2 separate regions of the Homo sapiens genome follow, and region 2 is linked to region 1. Evidence: fine-mapped expression QTL. A gene starts in region 1. The other region holds a variant in brackets. All regions are shown on one strand. Distances are from middle to middle. Region 1 holds the start of ALOX5 (arachidonate 5-lipoxygenase). Region 2 overlaps ALOX5 (arachidonate 5-lipoxygenase).

What was found.
Region 2: its variant is fine-mapped to the expression of ALOX5 in whole blood (TOPMed, PIP above 0.99).

Annotation. Positions count from the first base shown.
Region 1 is chr10:45,370,857-45,376,340 of GRCh38, forward strand. ALOX5 (arachidonate 5-lipoxygenase) reads left to right here and starts at 3,360. Exons shown (of 14, transcript NM_000698.5): 1 at 3,360-3,573. The coding sequence starts at 3,424. RefSeq lists enhancers at 3,128-3,738, 3,739-4,347.
Region 2 is chr10:45,416,088-45,421,087 of GRCh38, forward strand. All of the region lies in intron 4 of ALOX5 (arachidonate 5-lipoxygenase), which reads left to right. Among named protein-coding and RNA genes, the nearest start is that of ALOX5, 44 kb to the left of the region's middle. RefSeq lists enhancers at 2,852-3,545, 3,546-4,237, 4,266-4,767. The variant G/C (reference allele first, on the strand shown) is at 2,752.

The DNA of each region.
Region 1 (5,484 bases):
AGCCAGACACAGAAATACAAATATTGTATGATCTCATTTATATGCGAATCTAAAAATTTCAAACTTGAAGACGAATAAGTAGAACAGTATTTATCAGGAGCTAGGGGATGTGGGGAAGAAGCAAAATATTGGGCAAAGAGTATAAACTTTCAGTTATGAGATGAAGGCCAGGTGCGATGGCTCATGTTGGTAATCCCAATACTTTGGAAGGCTGAGGCAGAGGGATTGCTTGAGACCAGCCTAGGCAAGAAAGTGAGACCTCATCTCTACAAAAAATAAAAATAAAAGAATCAGCTGGGAGTGGTGGCATACACCTGTAGTCCCAGCTAGTCAGGAGGCTGAGGGGGGAGGATCATTTGAAATTGGAAAGTCAAGGCTGCAGTCAGCCAAGATAGTGCCACTGCATTGCAGCCTGGGTGACAGAGCGAAACCCTGTCTCAAAAAAAAAAAAAAAAAAAAGATGAATAAGTTCTGGGGATCAAATGTACAGCATGGTGACTATAGTTTATAACTGCGTTATTACTTGAAATTGGATAAGAGCAGATTTTAAGCATCCCCAGCACCCCCCCAACATACACACACACAAATGGTAACTATAGGTGGTGATAGATATGTTAATTTGACTGTGACAATCAGCATTCAATATATACATATATCAAATCATCACATTTTACCCCTTGAAATAGAAACTTTGATTTGTCAATCAAATATTTTAAAACGAAAATAATCATAATATTAATATAGCATACAGGAAAAAATTTCGTATCTCGACTGATACAGAAAATTTCATGATAAAAACACTTTAAAACAAAAGAAATAAAAGGGAACTCCCTCAACCTGATAAATGGCATCTGTGGAAACCCCCAGCTAGCATCAAACTTAATACAGAAAGGCTGGGTGTTCACCTCTTGAACCAGGAACAAGACAAAGATGCCTGCTTTTGCCACTTCCATTTGACCTTGTACTGAGGTTCTGGCTAGGGCAATTATCCCTGAAAAAGAAATAAAAGGCTTCCAAATAAAAGAAGAAGTAAAACTATCTCTACTCGCTCATGACATGATCTTGCATATAGAAAATGTGCACATGTACACACACACAAACCATTAGAACTAATAAACAAGTTCAGCAAGTTTGCAGAATATAAAATGAATGTACAAAAATCAAGTGTTTTTCTATATACTAGCAATTAACAATCTCAAAATGAATTAAAATTCCATTTACAATAGTATCAAACATAAATTATTTAGAAATAAAAAGTGCACTGAAAACTACAAAATATTTTGAAATAAATCAGAAAAGATTTAAGTAAATGGATCACTTGAACCTGGGAAGCAGAGGTTGCAGTGTGCCGAGATTGTACCACTGCACTTTAGCCTGGGCAACAGAGGGAGACTCCAAAGAGTCGAAAAGAAAAGAAAAGATTTAAATAAGCTGAAACATATTCTATGGATCAGAAGACTTAATATTGTTAAAGTGACAATATTCCCCAAATTGATCTACAGCTTCAACTCAACCCCTATCAAAATCCTAGCTTGCTTTTTGGCTGAAATTGACAAGCTGATTCTATAATTTATATGGAATCTCAAAGGATCCAGAATAACCAAAACAATATTGAAAAATAAAGAACAGCGTTGGTGGATTAACATTTTCCAATTTCAAAACTTACTATAGCACTGCGGTAATCAAGCAGTGTGGCACTGTATAGCATGTACATTACAGATCAGTGGACTAGAATCAATGTCCAGAAATAAACCGTTATGTTTATAATGAATTACTTTTTAATAAGGTGTCAAGACAACGCAATGGGAAAAGAATAATGAATTCAACAAATGATGCATGGACAACCGGACATGCACATGCAACACAATGAATTTGAATTCTTCTATCGCTCCATGCATAAAAACTAACTCAAAATGGGTCACGGATGTAAATGAAAAGCTAAAACTATAATAATCCTAGAGGAAAACCTAGGAGTAAATCTTTAAGATGTTATTGTAGGCAGTGGTTTCTCAGATAGGACCCCAAAATCACAAGCGACAAAAGAAATTGGACTTAAAGTTAAATACTTTTGTGCTTCAAACATCATCAAGAAAGTGAAAACACAACCCGCAGAAGCAATAAAAATGTCTGTAAGTCATGTATCCGATTAGAGACTTCTATCCAGGATATATAAATAATGCAATTCAATGATAAAAAAGATAAATAGCCCAGTTTTCCAAAGAGTCAAGCATCTGAATATACATCTCTCCAAAAATATACAGATATCCAACAAGCATGTGAAAAGATGTTCAAAGCCATTTGCCAGGTGCACAAACCCAAGACAGTATGAGGAGATGCTACAGGGACTCTGCTGCTTCACAGACATGAAGCGTTGGTGAGAATGTAGGCAGCCGCCTTTGGGGACTTCACATCCCCGCCGCCCCACGCACGGTGAGCTAGTGTTTAAACTTAGCCGAGATCAATACACGCGACTGTGTGCCCGTCAGACCCTGCGCTGCCGGCGGGGCTGGGAGAGGCGGGCGCCAGGAGTGGGCGGGAACCTGGGGGTCAGGCCCCAGCCGCGGGAAGCCGCCCAGGAGCGCGCGAAACCTTCTCCACACCCTTCCAGGCATTTGCCCGCCGCGATTCAGAGAGCCGACCCGTGACCCCTGGCCTCCCCTAGACAGCCCCGCATGTCCAGATGTGCCGTCCCGCCTGCCTCCCGCGACCACTGGCCATCTCTGGGCCTGGGCGCGGTCTCGGCGCCCGCCTGCCCCCGCCAGGAGCCGCAGGTCCAGCCAGTGAAGAAGCCCGCGCTGAAGGAGCCTCTGTGCTCCAGAATCCATCCTCAGTATCAGCGCTGGGGTGGCCTCCTCCAGGAAGCCCTTCTGATTCTCTCATGGGTCGCTCTTCCTCTGCAGACTCCCGGAGCACCCCTGCTCCAAGTACCGCAAGTGGCACTGAGAACTTGGGGAGAGCAGAGGCTGTGCCTAGATTTGTAGGGAGTCCCCGCAGCTCCACCCCAGGGCCTACAGGAGCCTGGCCTTGGGCGAAGCCGAGGCAGGCAGGCAGGGCAAAGGGTGGAAGCAATTCAGGAGAGAACGAGTGAACGAATGGATGAGGGGTGGCAGCCGAGGTTGCCCCAGTCCCCTGGCTGCAGGAACAGACACCTCGCTGAGGAGAGACCCAGGAGCGAGGCCCCTGCCCCGCCCGAGGCGAGGTCCCGCCCAGTCGGCGCCGCGTGAAGAGTGGGAGAGAAGTACTGCGGGGGCGGGGGCGGGGGCGGGGGCGGGGGCGGGGGCAGCCGGGAGCCTGGAGCCAGACCGGGGCGGGGCCGGGACCGGGGCCAGGGACCAGTGGTGGGAGGAGGCTGCGGCGCTAGATGCGGACACCTGGACCGCCGCGCCGAGGCTCCCGGCGCTCGCTGCTCCCGCGGCCCGCGCCATGCCCTCCTACACGGTCACCGTGGCCACTGGCAGCCAGTGGTTCGCCGGCACTGACGACTACATCTACCTCAGCCTCGTGGGCTCGGCGGGCTGCAGCGAGAAGCACCTGCTGGACAAGCCCTTCTACAACGACTTCGAGCGTGGCGCGGTGAGCGCGGGCGGGGCACGGGTGGAGCGCGGGCTGAGGTGCGTCCGGGACCCGGTTTGGACGGCAGAGGCCTGGGCGGGGGCGCCGAGGGCCCGTCGGGGCGGCCCGGACAGGACTGGGGGTGTCCAGGACCCTGTCAGGGAGGGCAGAACTGCGGTGGGGCGTGCCCTGGGCTCCCAGTGGCCGGTGGGTACCCTGGTGGGCAAGCGTCCAGGACCCCTCGCGGCGGCCGCGACCCCTGTCGGAAACGGAGACTTCCCGCGTGCCGCCTGCAAGGCGTCTTCCCTGGGAGGAGAAGGCCCAAGGTTTCCCCTCCACTTCAAGATCTGGGCTCCGAGGCTCCGGAGCCCCCTTCACTGGGCCGCGTTTCTTGTGCCACCTCTTCCTTAGGCTCCTTCTGCAGGTCGCACAGGGAGGGAGAGGCAGATGAGTCATGCTCACAGAACTCTGAGGGCACCTCGGAGCAGCCAGCTGTGAGCCGTGGGGAAGGGTGCACGTCAGCGGGTCCAGAGGCCTGAGTTCTGTCCAGACATGACCACCAGCTCACTCTACCGTCTGTCTGGGCCTCAGTTTCCCCAGCTGAAAATGGAGGGTTGGCTTCAGTCTGGTCCATGAGTCATGGGTGAGCCCAGGCCCATCTGGTGGCTCAGACGGCACCTGGGCAGCTTACATTCTCAGGACAGTCCCCAGAGGAAATTAAAGGGAAGGAACAGAACCCAGGCCAGGAGAGGCTTTTCCTAAATGGAGGGGCTGCACTCCCTCCCAGCAGAATGTACACCAGGGAACACTTCCACGCTAGGTGTGAGGACGCGAGGGAGCCCTCAGCATTTGGAAGCTAGTTCCTAATGCTGATCTGGACCTGAATTCCAGCCCCACGACTCTTTTCCATGAGCATGGGCAGGTCGCAGTTCTCACTGAGCCTTTAATGAAGTGCCTAATCCAGTACCTGGCACAGAGGAAGCGCTCCGTAAATGACTGGTAATAGTCCCAGACATACTGCAGGTGCGCAGGGAATATCAGTTCCCTTCCACCCCACCCCAGCTCCTAACTGGACCAAAAAGATTTAGACTTTACCAAGCTGCCTTCTCACCATTTAGTTTATTATTTGATCAAACCTTGTGAAATTGCTCATAATGGACAAATACAACCGGCAAGTTCATGTTTCAACTGATTACTCTTGGATAAAATTTGTGTTTTAGGTGTGCAGAGCCTAAAGTAAGTAAAAACTACTCTTTTTCTGGATTCCAAGCTCTCCATGGGCTCGATTCCTATCCAGGAGCCCATACCCTCGCTGTAGCACGACATGGCCCTCAGCCAAGTTCACTAGCATCCTGGCTTGAGCTCCCTTCAAGAAGAGTTAGGTGTTGAGTACAAGAGCAACCTTCAGTTGCTTAGTTGCCCCAGTCGGGGAACTGACCCTGAGGACTGCGGTGCCCTGGAGTTAATGTGTCGTCCATTTAGGGTGATGGCACCCTCTGCCATTTCTGACGCACCTTCATTTACTTCCATTATTTCATGGATTCCCCACACCTGGGGGAGAAGGACAGGGTACAGGCTACTTCCCCTTTGTAAGTGCTTCCTCCTCCCCATTCTCCTCCACACATCATAAGGTTCTAGAAGCACAGGCCATTGGTGTGCTCACACTGCACAGCACGGGCACCCCGTGTGTGCTTTCCTCCTGCAGGGGACATGATAACGTGGCCATAGCGGGCTCTTCGGACAAAGAGTGAAGGCACTGTTTTGTCCACTATCTCCCTCTCTCGGTCTGTCTTCCCCTACCCTGAGAAGTCATTCAAATGACATTATAATTAAACACCTCAGCCGGAATCCCAGGGGCAAATTTCAGGAGAGATTTGCATGTCACATTTCCATTGGGTTGAGAGGGCTATAAGTCAGGGGTGGGGCGGGGGG
Region 2 (5,000 bases), 45 kb after region 1:
CCAGCCAGACTTCAAAGCTTAAAATAATATTATTTATTTCTAAACATTGTGTCGGTGTTTTGGGGGGTACAATAATCTATTTTAAGCTTCATGGCCATCCTGGGAGGTAAATAATATTATTGACCATTTCTAGGTGAGGAAACTGAGTCTCCAAGGGGTCAAGGTCAAGGAGTTTGCCTAAAGTCATTTAGGCAGAAATTGGCAAAACCAGGATTTGAATCCAGGTCTGTTTGTGTCCAAAGCTGGGGCATTTTTCTCCTACCACAATTGGGGTCTACTGGAGAGAAAAATTAAAACCTAACATCTGGATTAGTAATGCAGCAGTATCCACCATCTCCCTGGAAACATCACGGCAGTTAGGGGCTCACTTCCCTTCCCCTACTCTGGGATTGGGATTGTTGATCAAAGCCATGTAGCTTTAGTGGGATAGGTCCCAGACCAGGATGGGACAGGCAGGACAGAAGGCCCTTGTGAAAGAGACAGTTTGGAGGGAATAATAAGGATGGTGAGGTAGTGAGGTGGAGAGTACTGCCACCCAGTTTGGAGGGAATGGAGGAATACTGGACAGATGGACAATCAAACCGATGGACAGGCAGATGGATGGGTTGAGGGATGGATGATGAATGGATGGATGAAGGGAAGGAGGAAGGATGGAAGAAGAGGTGGATGGGGGATGGATGGAGAGATAGATGAGAAATTGATATACGGATGGATGGATTCATGGATGGTGGATGGATGGATGGATGACAGATAGTGAGATGGATGGATGGATAGATGGGTGGATGGATTGATGGGTGGATGGTGAATGGATGGTGGATGGATGGAAGTATAGACAGAGAGATGGATGGATAGATGGATGGATGGATGGATGGAGGAATTAATGGTGGAGTGAAGGCCAGACTGTGCCTTTCTTATCTCTGTTCAGTGTTTCTGAAGGTCATTGTCATCTCTGTATCTCAGGAGCCTCTGTATCTTAGCAGCTGTCACAGAATAGGTGCTCATTAAATCCTATTAAAATGAAAGTGTGACCCACCTGGCCCCTGAGTGCCCCTGAGTGCCAGCTGGGTCACAGTCCATTTTAACAGGGTTTAATGAGCACCTATCCTGTGGTATAGAAGGTAACTGTGCACCTCCTTTTCATGTATCCCCATCATGGCTAACAACAGCCTAGACATATGGTTCTCAATCCTGTGTGTTTAGTGTTACAGACTCCATGCTGCCCACTCTGCACAAACTGTGGAACCAGGGGAAGTCCAGCACAGTTATATTTTAGGGCTACTGGTGGATTCCAGTGTATAGCCAGGATTAAGAACACTGGCCTGTAATGCCTTTCTGGGCCTCCCCACCCCCCACATATGGTTGCATCTATTTGCTGAGTCAAGTCCATCTGCTGGGTCCCAGGGAGTGCCTCCTCCTCTCCCAGCTCCACCATCTCTCCTGAGTGAGGGCAGGAGCATCTTTCCAGCTGCCTCCCTGGGCTCCATCTCTCAAGACAGTGGGAGGGCTTATTCTCAAGTGCTTGTATAATTTGTTGGAGGCTCGCTCTAAAAAGTAAATATAATTTCTTGGTTGGCTCAATTGCAGGTGAGAGCCCAGATGTCTCTGCCCAGAAATGGAGATACATCCATAGGGACGCACCCGCCCCTGCCATCTCTCAGGTCCTACATGCATAGGATGCTCCACCGTGGGGAGCCAGCAGGGCTTTGCAGAGCATCTCTTGTCTCTGACCTAGCTGTTTCCTTTGCCACACCCACCCTCCCCACTTCTTGGCCAAGACATGGGTGAGGGGCCCCTTCTTGCAGAAGCTTCTAGAAGCCTCTGGCCCCAGTGAGGTCCCCTCCCCTGTACTCCCCAGTGCCGCCCACCCTGCCCTTGGCCCCAGAAGTGCTGCAGCCCACGTTTCTCCACATCGTCCTGTCATTAGCCCCTTGAGTGATGGCCTATTGGCAGGAGCAGAGCGAAGGAATCCTGAGAGGGGCCCTTCTGCCCCTCCTGGCCCAGCAGGCTGGACAGTAAGCTTAGCCCCACTCTGAGCACCGCCTCTGTGCTGGCACAGTGGATGGAGACCCTTGAGTTCTGCGGGGGAGAGAAGAGGTGTCCCTGTATTTGAGGAGCTGAGCCAAGGGGGCTGGACCACAAGGAAGCAGCTTAGAGGAGCCTGTGTGGGGATGAGGGGTGCCTGGGAGAGGGCCCTGGGCCGGTGGGGGTTGGGGGGACCCTAGGAAAGTCGTCTAAGTTCCCTGAGCCTCGGTGTCCTCAAATGAACAATGAGACCCGGCCCCAGCTCCTCCCCAGGGTTGTGAGATTAAAATGGGATCGCACACATCAGCCCCTCAGGGAAGTTTCTCCCTAAAGACAGCCTTTGTCTTCTCCATTCTTGGTTCAGGCCCTCTGGGACCGCGTCTCCACCATCACACACCGGCCTAGGGCTGCACTCTTGGAAGGGCCCCTGCGCTTGCAGGGTGGGCAGGGGACCCTCGCTTCACCTGGGCGTCCTCTCTGATGGGGCCCAGGAAGGCTTTGCAGCCGGGGGCCATCTGACCAGGTCTTACTGGGCCCAGGCAGAGGTACGTGGGGCCTGGAGAATGGCACAGGGGGCTGCAGCGGAGAGAGACTGTGGGCACAGGTGTGGCGAGGCCAGGCCGCCGAGAGCCAAGTGGTTTGCGAAATTTCCTGGTGGTGTGGAGGGAGGAAAAGCTGATGTGTTCACCTCCCCACTCGCTGTTTGCAGCCTGGAAGACGATTGCAGGG[G/C]GTGGCAGGGCTGAAAAGACAATGTCCTCATTAAAGGAAATTGAGAAAGAGAGTTTCCTTCCCAGTGGGGCGGGACAGTGCAGAAATGCGGCCGGTCCTGGAAGAGGTGGGGGCGAGGGGTCGGGGGCTCACACGCCCTGCGATTTCCTCCCATGAGAATGGGCGGGGGCAGCTCCGGGAAGGGTGGCGGATGGAGCCGCCCTCTCCCCAGGACCACAGGGGCGCTTTCCAGTGAAGGCGCCGTAGGAAACGCCAGTCTGTGCCGCAGTGTACGTAGAGGCGCTATGAGCCCGAGTTTCCCACGTCCAGGGACAAACTGGGAGCCGTGACTGTCAGGCCGCGCGGAGGCTGCCCTGGCCGCCTTTGCGGTCAGGTGAAGGCGCAGAGGCAGGGAGGCCGGGCGAGCGCAGGCGGGCGGAGAGCAGACCACGCGGAAGAGGCCGAGAGAGAAAGCGGGGCACCCGGCCGGGGGGGTCATTTACAAGGGACGCTGGGCACGAAGGAGGCTGGGGCGAAGATGAGTCCAGGGGTTGGGTTGAGAGCGCTGCGCAGCCGGGCTGAGAAGAGAAGCTGACGAGTGACTCCCGACAAGGGACGGGGGAGAGGGAACCTGGGGGCAGGCAGAGGCCTAGGGGGTGGGCTCTGAGGGCAGCCACTCCCACCGGCCCTCCCCCAGCCCCGCAGGCCAGCCACATGCCCCGTGCTCCAGACGACCCAGCTACATGGATGGCAGCGTCCTGAAGGGGGATGATCGGTAGGGAGTGGGTGCGGAGGCTCACGCCTGTAATCCCAGTGTTCGGGGATTCCCGAGCGGGAGGATCGCTTGAGCCGGGGAGGTGGAAGCTGCAGTGATCTGCGCCACTGAACTCCCGCCTGGGCGGCAGAGTGAGACCCTGTTTCAAAAGGCACCAGGGGTGTAGGGAAGGAGCGATATCCCCCAGGCAAGGAAGGCTGCGGAGGGGCCAGGCCAGGAGAGAAGGGCCCTGAGCTCAGTGGACGGGCAGGGTGCCTGTGGAGGAAGGGAGGGACGTAGCAGCAGGAGGAAGGGTGAGGACCCAGGCTGGGGATCGGGAGAAGTGATGGCGGAGGAAAGAGAGGCCGGAAGAGGAGGGGGCCTGCTGGCCTGGCACTGGAAAGCAAAGCGTGGGTTTGTATATGGGAAGAAGACCACATCCCCTCTTATCGTCATCCCAACTCAGAAACCATTTGGCCCCAAGTCACCAAAGCACTCATAGGAACCACTTTTCCTGTGACACAAGTAGGATTCTCCCACTTTTAACTTCCCAAATGCTACCCGAAAGCCTCTGAAATCCTTGGAAATTTAAAAAATAATCCCCTTCTATTAACTGATGCCTATAAAACATATTGACTTTCATTAAATTTTGTTATGAAATCAGGGATGTGTCCCATTGTAAAATAAATTTGTTTGGAAAATGTAGGGTGGTATCCCATCTAAAAATCAGACGAGGCTAGAAAATTTCAATTTTATTTGCTAAGGTAGCATCATGTTGTTAAAAATGCATCATAAAATAAGACCAAGAGTTAATACAAAGCATGAAGTCATGTTTCCCTCAAAAAAATGATTTGTTCTGTAGTCAAATTAATTTGGAAAACATTGCAAACTCTTCAGCAGTGGTTCTCAAAGTATAGCTTGCGTCAGAATCCCCTGGGGCCCTTGCTAAAATCTGGATGGCTACACTCCCCGCCTAGAGTGGGTTAAACTCAGTGCCCACTGGCAGGAAACTGAAACTTGGCTGAAGTCACCGAGGAGGCCTTCCCCGTTAAACCTCTGGCTGGCGACAGCTTGGTTTCCTCGCCGCTGCTTCTGAGTAATTCTGGCACGCAGTTCCTCCTAGCCACCTGCTGTACCTGGAAGGGGGCCAGCCCTCCTCAGCAGGCTTTGCTCCTGCCCTGCACAGCACAACTGTGGCGTAAAAAATGGAAAAGCTGGTAGCAGAAGGAAAGAGCAGGGAGACAGAGGTTAGGTGAACCTCAATGGCCTCATTAAAGCAAATTGAGAAAGAGAGTTTCCTTCCCAGTGAGGCGGGACAGTGCAGAAATGCGGCCCGTCCTGGGAGAAGTAGGGGCGAGGGGTGGGGGGCTCACCGGGCACATGGCCAACAGCTGGTGCCCAGCCTGGGCCACAGTTTGGCACAGGAGAAAGCTGAAGATGCAGGAGAAAGCTAGGTCACTGCCCCTAGGCCAGGTGATCAAGGTGGCTGTTACCTGCCTGTGTGGCCTTGAAAAAG